Regions from separate parts of the Homo sapiens genome. Here all the other regions are linked to region 1. The links come from fine-mapping of genetic effects on gene expression. A gene starts in region 1. Each other region holds a variant in brackets. All regions are shown on one strand. Distances are between the middles of the regions. Region 1 holds the start of POMT1 (protein O-mannosyltransferase 1). Region 2 has its middle 4.9 kb from the start of PRRT1B. Region 3 holds the start of LOC105376299 (a long non-coding RNA gene).

What was found.
Region 2: its variant is fine-mapped to the expression of POMT1 in whole blood (TOPMed, PIP above 0.99).
Region 3: its variant is fine-mapped to the expression of POMT1 in whole blood (INTERVAL, PIP 0.98).

The regions. Positions count from the first base shown.
Region 1 is chr9:131,499,994-131,505,216 of GRCh38, reverse strand. POMT1 (protein O-mannosyltransferase 1) reads right to left here and starts at 2,299. Exons shown (of 20, transcript NM_001077365.2): 1 at 2,144-2,299; 2 at 877-1,028. The coding sequence starts at 998. It overlaps PRRC2B (proline rich coiled-coil 2B), which reads right to left. Exons shown (of 32, transcript NM_013318.4): 32 at 5,024-5,223. It also overlaps the pseudogene LOC124902290. RefSeq lists enhancers at 709-778, 789-868, 1,349-1,408, 780-1,645, 1,646-2,513 and 1 more and silencers at 1,979-2,128, 2,199-2,398.
Region 2 is chr9:131,538,058-131,543,280 of GRCh38, reverse strand. No RefSeq gene overlaps it. Among named protein-coding and RNA genes, the nearest start is that of PRRT1B, 4.9 kb to the left of the region's middle. The variant T/C (reference allele first, on the strand shown) is at 3,050.
Region 3 is chr9:131,323,603-131,328,825 of GRCh38, reverse strand. LOC105376299 (a long non-coding RNA gene) reads right to left here and starts at 3,956. Exons shown (of 4, transcript XR_001746959.3): 1 at 3,187-3,956. The variant G/A (reference allele first, on the strand shown) is at 2,395.

The DNA of each region.
Region 1 (5,223 bases):
GCCTGGCTGTGAACTGATAAGGTGAAGCTGGGTAATGAAAATACTGGTGTGTGTGGGGGGGTCATTCATTATACTTGTCTCCCTGCTTTTGTATATGTTTGACGTTTTCCATAATAAAAAGTTAAACAAAAAAGAACATGCAGCAGGGCGGAGTGGCTCACGCCTGTAATCCTAACACTTTGGGAGACCCAGGTGGGTGGATCATGAGGTCAGGAGTTCAATACCAGCCTGGCCAAGATGGTGAAATCCCGTCTCTACTAAAAATACAAAAATTAGCTGGGTGTGGTGGCGGGCACCTGTAATCTCAGCTACTCGGGAGGCTGAGGCAGAGAATTGCTTGAACCCAGGAGGCAGAGGTTGCAGTGAGCCGAGATGGCACCACTGCACTCCAACCTGGGCGACACAGCAAGACTCCGTCTCAAAAACACACACACACACACACACACACACACACACACACATACACACATTAATCAGTTAATAAAGAGCCCTTCAATAATAACAGCAATCACTTCCCATTATGACAAAAACACATTCTAAAAAGTGCTCTCAACAGTGAAGACTTACTTCCAAATCCATTAATCCTCTGCCGTCCAGACTTTAAAACTGTTACTTAAGGCTGGCAACCAGATTTTCCTCTACTGCACCCCTTTAATGGGCCAAATTTCACCTGTTACAGACTCAGAAGGCAAGACCTAAAAGGTGTACTCTGCTGGGGCTGTCCTGGGGACAGACTGGTCTCTCCTCTCACTGCCAAAAACACCTATCACCAAGAAGCCAGGATTTCACTCTCCCATTTATGCTATTCAGTAAGGGCGCCTCCTGTCACAAAGTACAATTCTAGATTCACCCTGGGAATGGAGTCATTTAGCTTACACCACAGCCCGCGGGTAGGTGAGTCGCCACAGCCGGCTCAGTAACCCCATCCCAGTCAGGGCCACAAGGCTCAAGTTGATGTCAGCCGTCACCACTACAGGGCGCTTCAAAAATCCCCACATCTTGTAGAAAAGCGGGCTCAGGCAGACGCCCTAGAAAAGAAGGGAGGAGCCGTGGTCCATGAGGGCTCACGAGAGGCTACAGAAGGGATCCCCAGCCACCCGGCTCCCGGACACACGAGGAGAACCACAGCACAGCCGGGCTGCTGAGAAAGACCGAAGTTCCTGGAGCCTTGGTTCAGGTAGACATGTGGGGTGAGGGGCACTAGCAGTGAACTCGGGTGGGAATTCAGGGGATCTCAGGACTGGACATTCACTCCTTTCAACAACTCATTCCACAAAACCTGCCGAGCACGTCTTGGGCGCGAGAACACTGCTAAGGAACGCCAGGGTTTCTCCCCTCCCTCCCCGACGACCAGAAGCCCACAGTGCGGCCACAGCTACCTGACCCTGGGCAGCTCCTGGGTGCCATCTCAGCTGCTTACAGCCCAGGGACCCCAACCTGGCCGAGCCTCGGGGCCTCCTCATCTCTCCTCAAGGATGCATCTGCCCCCAGTGCCTCCCTGCCTTCTATCCCAGCGGCACATCATCCCCGGGTGCTCCCTTTCTCGCCTGGAGGGTGCATTTGCACCCTGCGCCCCCACGTTCTCCTCCAGGCTTCATCTTCCCTTGAGCTCCGCTTCTCTTGAGGCTGCATCAGGCCTGGGACACCCTGTCTCACACCAAAGCCGCATCTGGCCGTTGGCGCCCCGCTGGTCTCCTCAGGCCCCATCTACCCTGGACGCGCCCTTCCCTCCCTGAGCTGCATCTGCCTTGAGCGCCTTCGTCCCAAAAGGTCCCATCTGTCCTGGGAGTGCCTCCTCTCCCCTTGCAGACCGCATCTCCCTGGCCGGCCCTTCTTCCCCACAGGCCGCACCTGTCCCGTCCACCAACTCCCGAGGCTGCGTCGGCCCCAGCTCCGTCCTCACCCTGAGACTGCACCCGCAGCACGCCCTTCCTCCCTAGGGCTGCACGCGCCACGGAGTTCTTACTTCGGGGCTCGGCCGCCCGAACGCCGCATCTGCCCGGGCCCGAACCCCGCCCCCAGCTCCGGAAAGACGGGGACGCCCCCGGCCCCAGCCCGTCCGCAAGCCAGGGACCCGCGTCCGGCACTGACGGACTCCCCCAAGTCCGGGCTGGGCTCTCGTCCCCGGTGTCCCCAAATGTACCCGCGTTTCTCCGAGTCCACACAGAGCCGCGCCCGGCTCCCGGCAACGCCTCGGAACCGTCCGACTGGGCCGACGGTTGGGGGTGAGGCCGCTCGGCACTCCGCACCACCCACCGCCCTGCTCAACGTTCGATTCACCGAGCCTGCGGGGCCAGACGGGCAGCAGCGCGCGTGCGCACTGGGAGAGGGTGACGCGCGTGCGCAGCGGGCGAGGGCGCCGGTCCCGGAGGAGAGGCAGGTGTGAAACGCGGCGACCTCCCCTCTCTCGGGTGCTACTGTTTTGTGTGCCAGGATTTCTGTGTACTCTAAGCAGACGTGCAGATTTTAAAAAGCGCAGTGGGCTCCCACCCATCTTCTGCTCCTTGCTTTTTCACTCCATCTGGCGTGAAGATCTTAATTCTGCGTCTGCACAACGGCGTTCTGCCGGGCGCGCCAGTTTGCTCCTAGTTTTTTTCTTTTCTTTTCTTTTCTTTTTTTTTGAGACGGAGTTTCGCTCTTGTTGCCCAGGCTGGAGTGCAATGGCGCGATCTCGGCTCACCGCAACCTCCGCTTCCCGGGTTCAAGCGATTCTCCTGCCTCAGCCTCCCGAGTAGCTGAGATTGAAGGCGCACGCCACCACGCCCGGTTAATTTTTGTATTTGTAGTAGAGACAGGGTTTCACCATGTTGGCCAGGCTGGTCTCGAACTCCTGACCTGAAGTGATCCGCCCACCTCGGCCTCCCAAAGTGCTGGGATTACAGGCGTGAGCCACTGCGTCCGACCTTAATTTTTTTTTTAAGACACGGGGTCTCGCTCTGTCGCCCAGGCTGGAGTACAGTGGCAGGACCACGGCTTGCTGCAGCCTCGACCTCTCTGCCCGAAGCGATCCTCCCTCCTCGGCCTCCAGAGCAGCTGAGACCACAGGCACGTGCCCCCACGCCCGCGGGCGCTCCTAGTTTCCTTGCCGAAAAACATCGATGCCACGATCCTGCTTGCACATACATCTAGCGGTGAAGTGGCTGAGGGTAAGGGCATTTAAAACGGACCTAGGGCCGGGGGCGGTGGCTCACGCCTGTAACCCCAGCACTTTGGGTGGCCGAGGTGGGAGGATCCGTGAGCCCGCTTGAGTCCAGGAGAGCCTGGGCAACACAGCGAGACCCCGTCTCTACAAAAAAATACAAAAATTAGCGGGGCCCCTTGGCGTCTGCCTGCAGTCCCAGCTACAAGGGAGGCTGAGGCAGGAGATCACTTGGGGCAGAGAGGTCGAGGCTGCAGTGAGCCTTGGTCTCACCACTGCACTCCAGCCTGGACTACAAAGTGAGACCGTCTCAAAACAAAAAACAAAACCAAAAAAACCTGGACATCAGTGGGGGCTGCATGACCATCAGAGGCTCCAGTGGGGGCATCTCCCCTAAACTCCGTGGCAGAAGACTGGAGGCTTCTTCCTCCATTCCCAGGGCTCCTCCTCATCCATCAGCCTCTCCAGCCCCCTCTGCTGAGGGTCAAGAGCCTTCCCAAAGGCCTGCTTTGGAGCAGACATGGTACTTTTGGTTGGGTCAATGCACCCCTTCCCATGTTTTCCCTGAACAGTCGGCACCCAGAGCAGGGTAACTGACAGCAACGCAACCAGGCTGATGGATCACTCTTCTCAGCCTCGCTCCTTCTTGATCTCCTGGTCTATTTGTATGTTAATCTATACAGACCAAAAGGGCACACTGCAGGTTTAATAACCTTCATTATGGTTCTTGGCTGCCTGCAAGACTTTTTTTCCATGTTGGGCAACATAGCATTAGATGACACCAGTTAGAATTTCGTGGTTACTTCTTTATGGCTTACCCTTGAGGGGTTATGTGACTCACCCAAGATCCCACAGAGAGGCAAGGAGCTGGGGCTCACCTGGGTTTGTGGCCAGAGCCTGCAGGCAACTGTATTTACAGTGGGCAGGGAGGGTTCCCTGGGCCCCAGGAGGGAGTGGGGCTGGGCTGTTAAGCTTTGGTTCATGCCATGCTAACAGTGGTGGTGCCTCAGGACTTACAGCCTCCATCTTGCAAGCCCCCAACCTTAGGACTAGCCTCTTTCAGGGCTGGTCTCCGTTTGAGATTTTGTGAGCCACCTGTCCCTAGGGAGCAGTAAATCAGGGCAGTGAGTGTGGCTAGTTAAAGCTGAGATGCCCATGGCCAGGTCCCCAACTCTCTTCCATAGTCAAAAGGCTTAGAAGGAAGTTGAGGGACTGGGGTTCCTCATGGAAACAGCGTTTTATTTCTTGGGGGTAATTTATAAGTTTTCTTAGCTGGTTCTAGGCACTAAGCTAAAAGCTACTGGTGACTTTGAATCCACACTACGCCATGAGGTCGATACCATTACAATCTGTGTTTTATGATTAAGGAGACTGACTCAGGTGGTGAAACGTCTTTCCCCAGGTCAGTGAGGCAATGGCAAAACCGAGAACTGCTGCCTCAGCCCATTCTTACCTTTTACCCTTCGCTACCCCAGGCCTGGCTTGCTCCCTCCCCACCCCAAAGCACAGCATAATCCTCCTCCACTTCCTGCAAAAGCACCGCTAGAAGTGACAACACAACACGCCACATCAAATGCTTACCTCCTCTGACCAGCTCGTTTCTCACGGCAAGTGACGGGGCCACAGGCAGGCACTGTGCACAACCAGATGCCATCCGTGGGAAGAGGGTGGAGTGCTTGATGCTGCCGCATTTGGAAGATGCTTCTTAGCCACGGGTTTCAATCCCTTCTCTACCCACACAGCTTCTGTTAAGGCATTTCAGCCGTGCCACTCCTAATTTCCGTGTGAACTCTGTAAAATTAGAATTCTTTGATCTGTAGGTCTCTCTGGTCAAATGACCAAGAAACGAGGGATGTACAACCTGAGAAAGCACGTTCAGCTTTATCTTTTTAAACTTTTTTTATTTAAATAAGGAGAATTCTTTCATATGGAAAGAGCTAGTACAATCACATATTTGAAAGGAGAAACAATAGGTACTGAACCGGAGGGAAAGGGCGAGGGTGAGTGTGCCAGCACCGGCCTGGTGAATCCACGATTCGATTTCCCATCCAAGGTAAGTTTCCCAAAATACCGTATAAACAAGC
Region 2 (5,223 bases), 38 kb before region 1:
GTGATGTATTTGAACTGACGAAAAAACAAAAACAAAAAAAAAACTGTCAACTCAGAATTCTATACCCAGTAAAAATTCATTAAAAAACAAGATTTAAAAAAACCTCTTTAGGCCGGGTGCGGTGGCTCACGCCTGTAATCCCAGCACTTTGGGAGGCCGAGGCGGGTGGATCATGAGGTCAGGAGATCGAGACCATCCTGGCTAACACGGTGAAACCCCATCTCTACTAAAAATACAAAAAATTAGCCAGGCGAGGTGGCGGGCGCCTGTAATCCCAGCTATGCGGGAGGCTGAGGCAGGAGAATGGCGTGATCCCCTGGGGGTGGAGCCTGCAGTGAGCCGAGATCGCGCCACTGCACTCCAGCCTGGGCGACAGCAAGACTCCGTCTCAAAAAAAAAAACCTCTTTAAAAATAAAACAAAAACATTTTAAATTTGCAATATCAAGCCATGAAAAGACATGAAAGGACCTTAAATGAATATTGCTAAGTGAAAGAAGCCAATCTGAAAAGGCTACATATTGTATGATTTCAACTAGATGATGTTCTGGAAAAAGGAAAACTATGGAAGATCAATGGTGAACAGTGGTTAGGGAGAGGAAGAGATGAATAGCAGAAAGGATTTTTAGGGCAGTGAAACTACTCTGTATAATACTATAGGCTGGGTGCAGTGGCTCATACCTGTAATCCCAGCACTTTGGGAGGCCGAGGTGGGCGGATCATTTGAGGTCAGGAGTTTGAGACCAGCCTGGTCAACATGGCAAAACCCCATCTCTACCAAAAATACAAAAATTAGCCAGACGTGGTGGCAGGTGCCTGTAATTCCAGCTACTTAGGAGGCTGAGGCAGGAGAATTGCTTGAATCCTGGAGGTGGAGGTTGCAGTGAGACGAGATCATGCCACCACACTCCAGCCTGGGCAACAGAGTGAGACTCCGTCTCAAAAACAATAATAATATCATGGTGAATACATGTTATTATAAATTTTTCCAAATGCATAGAATGTACAGCAAGAGTGAGCTCTAATGTAGCGATGGACACTGGTGATAATGGTGTGTCCATATAGGTTCACTGATTGCAACAAATGTACCACTCTGGTGTGGGGTGTTGAAAATGAGGGAGACTGTGAATGTGAGGGTAGGGAGTATATGGGAAAATCTTTGCACCTTCAGTTCAATTTTTCTGTGAACCTAAAACTGCTCTAAAAAGATAAAGTCTATTACAATTCTTTTTTAAAAAGAAAAATAGGCCGGGTGCGGTGGCTCACGCCTGTAATCCCAGCAGTTTGGGAGGCAGAGGTGGGCGGATCACGAGGTCAAGAGATCAAGACCATCCTGGCTAACACGGTGAAACCCCGTCTCTACTAAAAATACAAAAAATTAGCCGGGTGTGGTGGCGGGTGCCTATGGTCCCAGCTACTCGGGAGGCTGAGGCAGGAGAATGGCGTGAACCCGGGAGGTGGAGCTTGCAGTGAGCCGAGATTGTGCCACTGCACTCCAGCCTGGGCGACAGAGCGAGACTCCATATCAAAAAAAAAAAAAAAAAAAGAAAAATAATTTCTCATCCAAAACAAACAAAAACAACAGAGGAAGTTCATTCAGGCAGAAGAAATAAAAAAACTAAAGCAAAGGCCAGGTGCGTGGCTCATGCCTGTAACTGCAGCACTTTGGGAGCTCAAGGTAAGCAGATCACTTGAGGTTGGGAGTTCAAAACCAGCCTGGCCAACATGGTGAAACCCCATCTCTTCTAAAAATAAATAAATAAATAAAATACAGGCATGGTGGTGGGTGCCTGTAATCCCAGCTACTTGGGAGGCTGAGGCAGGAGAATTGCTCAAACCCAGGAGGCAGAGGTTGCAGTGAGCTGAGATCATGCCACTGTACTCCAGCCTGGGTGACAGAGCAAAACTCCATCTCAAAAAAAAAAAAAGGAAAACAAAAAAACGCTAAAGCAAAAATAGTAGGAATTTATTTGTGTTTATAGCATACTAAAAAATAAATCAGGCTAGGCACAGTGGCTCATGCCTGTAATCCCAACACTTTGGGAGGCGGAGGCGGGTGGATTCCTTGAACTCAGGAGTTCAAGACCAGTCTGGGCAACATGGCAAAACCCTGTCTCTACAAAAAATACAAAAACTAGCTGGGCATGGTGGTGTGTGCCTATAGTCCCAGCTACTTAGGAGGCTGAGGTAGGAGGATCACCTGAGCATGGGAGGCAGAGGCTGCAGTGAGCTGAGATCGCATTGAGCCACTGCATTCCAGCCTGGGAGACAGAGTGGGACCCTGTTCAAAAAATTAATTAATTCATTAATTATGTGACACAATAGAACAAGTGATGGGAGGGGTTGGCGCTGCACTGCTGTAAAGCTATTACACTATGCACCAGCAATATAACATTATTTGAAGATAAACAGATTAATTAAATACATATGTCATAAACCCTAGGGCAATCACTAGATTTTTATTGAAAAGATCTCAACAATAATGTAATAGAGGAGATAAATGGAACCATAAACAATTTTCAATTAACCCATGAGGAATTAGAAAAAGAGGAAACATCAATTCAAGCACAGATAGAACAAATAGAAAAGAGCATGACTAGGGCTATGGTGAGGCCAGTGAGGTCCTGAGATGCAAAATGTAAGGGTTACTCACTTTCAGGACCACACATGTGCAGAATTCAGCACTCGTGTGAATCCGAGAGTTTACAGCCAAGAATCCTGGCCGACGGCACTGGAGCCAGGTGGTCAAGGTGAGCACCACCAGGAATAACTAGAGATGGGCTTGGTGCCTATGTTACCCAGGCTGGTCTTGACTCCTGGGCTGCAGTGATCCACCCACCTTGGCTACTCAAAGTGCTGGGATTACAGGTATGAGCTATTGCATCCAGCCTCTACAAAAGATGTTTTTTTTTTTTTTTATTGAGACAGAGTCTAGCTGTGTCACCCAGGCTGGAATACAGTGGCATGATCTAAGCTCACTGCAACCTCTGCCTCCTGGGTTCAAGCAATTCTCCTGCATCAGCCTCCCGAGTAGCTGGGATTACAGGTGTC[T/C]GCCACCACACCTGGCTAATTATTGTATTTTTTGTAGAGATGGAGTTTTGCCATGTTGGCCAGGCTGGTCTCGAAATCCTGACCTCAGATGATCCGCCTGCCTCAGACTCCCAAAGTGCTGGGATTATAAGCATGAGTGCCTGGCTGGCCAGCCTACTCTTTAACTCCTGGCCCCAAGTGATCCGCCTGCCTAGCCTCCTAAAGTCCTGGGATTACAGGCATGAGCCACTGCAACAGGCCCCTACAAAACATTTTGATGTCTTTATTTTTTATGATTAGAATTTTCACTTGGTTCTTTAAAAAAGTCTACAATTTTTGCCAGACACAGTGGCTAACATTTTTAATCCCAGCAACTTGGGAGGCTGAGGCAGGAGGATTGCTTGAGGCCAGGAGTTCAAGACCAGCCTGGGCAACATAGAAAGGCCCTTTCTCTAAAGTAAATTTAAAAATGAGCCAGGTGTGGTGGCACCCACCTGCGGTCTCAGATACTCAGGAAGCTGAGGCAGGAGGATCACTTGAGCCCAGGAAATTGAGGTTAGCAATGAGCTATGATCGTGCCACTGCACTCCAGCCTGGGTGACAGGGCAAGATCCTGTCTCTAAAAACATAAAATAAATATAGAAATAAAATGAAAATCTACAACTTTAATGTTTTTTTGCTTTGCTTTCTCCTCAAATGGCTTCTATTAATTATTTCAAACTCATAGAAAAAGTTGCAAGAATAGTAGAAAGAAGAGCCATGTCACCTGGTGTGTTATGGGCTATATTGTGTCCCCTGCCATGTTCGTATGTTGAAGTCCTAACCCCCAGTGCCTCAGTGTGTGACTGTATTTGGAGACAGAGCCTCTGCAGAGGTGATGAAAGCTAAGTGAGCTCATAAGCGTGGATCCTAATTGAATAGGACTGGTGTCCTTATAAGAAGAGGAAGAGGCCAGGCGCGGTGGCTCACGCCTGTAATCCCAACACTTTGGGAGGCTGAGGCAGGCAGATTACCTGAGGTCAGGAGTTTGAGACCAACCTGAGCAACATAGCGAAACCCTGTCTCTACTAAAAATAGAAAAATTAGCCAGGCGTGGTGGTGCACACCTGTAATCCCAGCTACTCGGGAGGCTGAGGCAGGAGAATCGCTTGAACCCAGGTGGCAGGGGTTGCAGTGAGCCGAGATTGTGCCACTGCACTCCAGCCTGGGTGACAGAGCAAGACTCCGTCTCAAAAAAAAAAAAAAAAAAAAAAAAACAAGAGGAAGGGGCTGGGCACAGTGGCTCATGCCTGTAATCCCAGCACTTTGGGAGGCCGAGGCGGGCGGATCACCTGAGGTCAGGAGTTCAAGACCAGCCTGGCCAACATGGTGAAACCCCGGGCGTGATGGCGGGTGCCTGTAATCCCAGCTATTCGGGAGGCTGAGGCAGAAGAATCGCTTGAACCTGGGAGGCGGAGGTTGCAGTGAGCCGAGATCACGCCATTGCATTCTAGCCTTGGCGGCAGAGCGAGACCCCGTCTCAAAAAAAAAAAAAAAAGCTGAAGAGGGAAGAGACCCCAGGGGTGTGCGGACACAGTGACAACCGCATGAAGAGTCAGTGAGGGAGGAGCAGCCGTCTTCCGTGGAAACCAACCCTGCACCTTGACGTTGGACTTCTAACCTGCAGAACAGGGAGGAAATACATTTCTTTTTTGAGACGGAGTCTCACTCTGTCACCCAGGCTGGAGTGCAGTGGCGCGATCTCGGCTCACTGCAAGCTCCACCTCCCGGGTTCACACCATTCTCCTGCCTCAGCCTCCCGAGTAGCTGGGACTACAGGCGCCCACCACCACGCCCGGCTAATTTTTTATATTTTTAGTAGAGACGGGTTTTCACCGTGTTAGCCAGGATGGTCTCTATCTCCTGACCTCATGATCCGCCCACCTCGGCCTCCCAAACTGCTGGGATTACAGGCGTGAGCCACCGTGCCCGGCCCCTGAGGAAACAGATTTCTGTTGTCAAAGCCACTCGGCCCGTAGCACTTTGTGACGGCGGCAGGAGCGGACTCATCATCGCCCCGTAGCCCTTGCACAGACCCCTCAGCGGCTCACATTTTGCACTCTTTGCTTGGTATTTGTATGCTCTCTGTTCATACACAGACACAGACGCACACATGCGTGCACATATACTTAATTTTTTTCTGAATATTTGAGAAT
Region 3 (5,223 bases), 180 kb after region 1:
TGTCTCAAAACAAAAACCAAAAAACTGGCTGGGTACTGTGGCTCACGCCTGTAATCCCAGCACTTTGGGAGGCTGAGGCAGGTGAACTGCTTGAGCTGACGAGTTTGAGACCAGCCTGGGCAACATGGCAAAATGCCGTCTCTACAAAAATTGCAAAAATTAGCTGGGTGTGGTGGTGCATGCCTGTAGTCCCAGCTACGTGGGAGGCAAGACGGGAGGATTGCTTGAGCCCAGGAGGCAGAAATTGCAGTGAGCTGTGTCATGCCACTGCACTCCAGCCTAAGTGACAGAACTAGACCTTGTCTCAAAACAAAAACCAAAAAACTGGTTGGGCATGGGGGCTCATGCCTGTAATCCCAGCACTTTGGGAGGCTGAGGCGGGTGAATTGCTTGAGCTCACAAGTTCGAGACCAGCCTGGGCAACATGGCAAAACGCTGTCTCTACAAAAATTGCAAAAGTTAGCTGGGTGTGGTGGCGCATGCCTGTAGTCCCAGCTACGCGGGAGGCAAGATGGGAGGATTGCTTGAGCCCAGGAGGCAGAAGTTGTAGTGAGCTGTGTCACGCCACTGCACTCCAGCCTGAGTGGCAGAACTAGACCCTGTCTCAAACAAAACAAAACAAACAAAAAACCCAAAAATTAGCCAGGCATGGTGGTGCATGCCTGTCGTCCCAGGCACAGAGGGGACTGAAGTGGGAGGTGGAGGCTGCAGTGAGCTGTGATTGCACCATCGCACTCCAGCCTGGGTGGCAGACTGAGACCCTGTCTGTAAATCAATAAGTAAGAGATTCAGAGACTGGGTAGGAAAAAAAAATTCCAGATTGATGAAGCTTAAAAGAGATCTGCACACACACAAAAAGAGAGCTCACCAAAAATTTAAGGATCCAAAAAGGTTAAAAATAATTTTCAGAGACATAGTTTCACCATGTTGCCCAGGCTGCTCTCCAACTCCTGAGTTTAAGTGATCTGCCCGTTTAACCTCCCAAAATGCTGGGATTACAGGCGTGAGTTACCACGCCTAGCCTATCTATCTATCTATCTATCTATCTATCTATCTATCTATTATATATATATATAAAAAGATATAAAGATATATTTTGATATGAGGCAAAGTTGTCTTATACTTTAAAAGCATTATCAATAATAGAAAGGGTGGGGCCAGGCATGGTGGTTCACACCAAGTAATCCCAGCACTTTGGGATGCTGAGGTGGGAGGTCTGCTTGAGGCCAGGAGTTTGAGACCAGCCTGGGCAACACAGTGAAACTCCTGTCTCTAAAAAAATGAAAAAAAAAAAATTAGCCTGGAATGGTGGCATGCTCGTGTAACCCTAGCTACCTGGGAGGCTGAAGTGGGAGGAACATTTGAGTCAAGGAGTTTGAGGCTGCAGTGGGCTGTGATGGTGCAACTGCACTCCAGCCTGGGTGACAGAGCAAGACTCCGTCTCAAAAAAAAAAAAAAAGAAAAGTCTATCAGTGTTACTTATCGTATTAACTGATGAAAGGAGGAAAAACTACAGGATCATTTTAATAGATGCTGAGGAAGTATTTTTAGAAGTTCACATAAATTTGTGATTAAGCCTCTTGGCAAGTCGGAAATGGGAGGATAAACATTAGCAGCATTCCTTCTGAGACTGGAAACAAGAATGTTCTGTTTGCTATTATCACTTCTGTTCAACAGAGTATTGGAGCTTCCACTCTAACATTAAGACTAGAAAAAATAAATTCGAAACATAAGGATTGGGAAAGAGAAAATAAAACACATTATTTTCAGATACTACCAGCTATATGGAACCCCAGAGGGAGAGTTTGGCAAGATACCTAGATATAAGAAAAATATACAAAAACTAATTTCATTTCTGTATACCAGGAAGAAACAATTGGAAAATATCCTTGAAAAAAAAAGGATAATGTTCACAAGAGTATGAAAATTATAATAAGTACCTAAGAATAAGTATAATGAAACGTAGGCAAGAATTAGGCAGGCAATTATACCTCCACCTCCTGGGTTCAAGCAATTCTCTGCCTCAGCCTCCTGAGTAGCTGGGATTACAGACGCCTGCCACCACGGCTGGCTAATTTTTTTGTATTTTTAGTAGAGACGAGGTTTCACCATCTTGACCAGGCTGGTCTTGAACTCCTGACCTCGTGATCCACCCACCTCGGCCTCCCAAAGTGCTGGGATTACAGGCATGAGCCACCACGCCCGGCCGAGATAACCCATTCTTAAGGACAGGAAAGCCTGATATTACAGAGATGTCAGTTCTTCATAAACTGATCTAGAGACTCAATGTAGCTTCTCGGGAGGCTGAGGTCAGGGGATTGCTTGAGCCCAGGAGTTTGAGATTGCAGTGAACTAGGATCGTGTCACTGCACTCCAGCAGGGGTGACAGGGGGA[G/A]ACCTCATCTCTTAAAAAAAAAAAGCACAAAAAACCATCTTTTTTTTTTTTTTTTTTGAGACGGAGTCTCACTCTGTTGCCCAGGCTGGAGTGCAGTGGCGCAATCTCGGCTCACTGCAAGCTCCGCCTCCCGGGTTCACGCCATTCTCCTGCCTCAGCCTCCCGAGTAGCTGGGACTACAGGCGCCCGCCACCACACCCAGCTAATTTTTTGTATTTTTAGTAGAGACGGGGTTTCACCTTGGTCTTGATCTCCTGACCTCATGATCCACCCACCTCGGCCTCCCAAAGTGCTGGGATTACAGGCGTGAGCCAAAAAAACCATCTTAAAAGCAAACACCTAAAGCAGCATGGCTCATTAATGAGAGTTGTGATGACCCAAAGATTATGATTAATCCACTTCTGGACCTCTGTGGTCTCTTAGCAAGAATTGCAGCTCAGCCACCTCCTGACTCTGCTTAGCGAGCCGAGATGATAACAGCCCACTTGGAGAGTTCGGGGAAGTGTCAACAATGGCCTAGTGGGCTCCCATCAGTGGGAGCTATTCTTACTGTGCTTTGTGCAGGGACTTGAAGCCAGAATGCAAGGGGCCACTGGGCTTTCCCCTTTCCTGGGTGTGGAGTGGGGAACAGCCCGTTACCCCATGAGCCCTCTGAGTCCCACCCTGGTTAAAGCTCATACACTTCATTTCCACAGCCATTTGCAGAGAGCAACCCACCTGCACTCAGCTGTGCTGGTTACAAGTAACCGAAGCCCAGCTCCAACTCTGCAGCCAAAAAGGGAAAGGACTCACCCACTTGAGATGTCCAAGGCTTGAGTCCAGGGATTGAGACGCTGGTCTAGTTGGTTCCTCCCATTTCAGAGAGACCGAAAACCGAAGCTCAGAGAGGTCAAGAGAATTGCCCAAAGTCACACAGACGCCAGTGGGAGGCTGATGCCCCAGCTGGCTCTGCTGACTCCAAAGCCTGGGTTTGGGTTCATCTGCAGGAGGAAACACAGCTGAGTCAAAAGCCCAGTGACTCGGTGGCAGCGCATGTCTTCCAGGAACAGAACAAACACAAGCCCATATCTGCAGGCGAGCCTTGCCTCGGCCTCCACAGCGCGGGTGGTAGAGTCAGGCGCCCCAGGCCCCTGAAAACCAGGACGCAGTCCCGTGGCCCGTCTCTCCCAAGAAACAGAATCCTAGCCGGACCCCGTGCCTGCTGGGCGTGGAGTGGAATGTTGCAGCTGCTTGGGTTTGGGGCAGGAAGGAAGGGGAGATGGAACAAGGTTGAGGGTCTCCGTTCCCCCTGGAGTGCATGGAGGCTTCCTCCTTCTCCCCTTTGAGATCTCAACACAACCCCCCACGTAGATTTTGAATGTGATCATTGAAGAGTGAGGGGCTGCTGATCCCTCCCGTGAGAGACCTGACCTGGCCCCTCTTGGCAAAGCTATCCAGGAACCAGGTCAGAGGCAGAAGGACCTTTGCCCTACAAACTACCCCATCCTTTCCCGGACTCAGAGCCTTGGGCTATACCTGGATGGATTCCCTTGGCCTTTCCACCTGAGGGGCCTGGAGGTTAGGTTGATTCTTGTTTTTTGTTTTTTTGAGACAGAGTCTTGCTCTGTCACCCAGGCTGGAGTGCAGTGGTGCATTCATGGCTCACTGCAGCCTCAACTTCCTGGGTTCAAGCAATCCTCCTACCTCAGCCTCCTGAGTAGCTGGGACTGTAGGTGCATGCCGCCATGCTGGGCTATGTTTTGATTTTTAGTAGAAATGGGGTCTTGCCATGTTGCTCATGCTGGGGTGCAGTGGCACCATCATGGCTGACTGCAGCTGCATGATCTTGCTATGAGTCTAATTATATTTCCCAGGCTGGTCTTGAACTCCTGGACTCAAGGGACCCTCCGGCTTTGGCCCCCTAAAGTGCTGGGATCATAGGTGTGAGCTGGCTTACCTGGCCCAGGATTGATTCTTTTTTTTTTTTTTTTTGAGACGGAGTCTCGCTCTGTTGCCCAGGCTGGAGTACAGTGGTAGGATCACGGCTCACTGCAAGCTTCGCCTCCCGGGTTCATGCCATTCTCCTGCCTCAGCCTCCCGAGTAGCTGGGACTACAGGCACCCGCCACCACGCCCGGCTAATTTTTTTGTACTTTTAGTAGAGACGGGGTTTCACCGTGTTAGCCAGGATGATCTCGATCTCCTGACCTCGTGATCCACCCTCCTCAGCCTCCCAAAGTGCGGGGATTACAGGCATGAGGCACCGTGCCCGGCTCCAGGATCGATTCTTAACTTTGGCTGTACTGAAATCACCTGGGAAGCTTGGAAAACAATCCCCGTGAGGAGCCCACGCCCCACACCAATTACACCCAAACCTCTTCAGGTGGGACCTGAGCTTCTGTATTTAAAAAAAATAATTAAAGCCTTTGCTGTATTCTACGCATCCTGAGAGGGGCCACCTGCTTCCAGGGACCTTCTGTGCAGCATCAGGGTCCCACTATCTACATGGCAGCTGCTGACCGGCACAGGTGTGGGGCTCTGCACACCTCAGATCCCTGACAAAGGAAGGGCGGACTGTGGGGCTGGGCATGCGCAGGGAACACATCAGATGGTGAACAAGCTGAGAGGAGTGTTTCGTTTCCCAGGGCTGTCATAATACAATCCCATAGACTGTGTGGCTCACACAACAGAAATTTTATTTTCTCACAGCTCTGGAGGTTGGAAGTCCAAGATCAAAGTTCAGCAGGTTTGGTTTCACCTGAGGCCTCTCTCCGTGGCTTGCAGATGGCTGCCTTCTCGCCGTGTCCTCACAAGCCATTTCCCCTGTGCTTGTGCATCCCTGGTGTCTCTT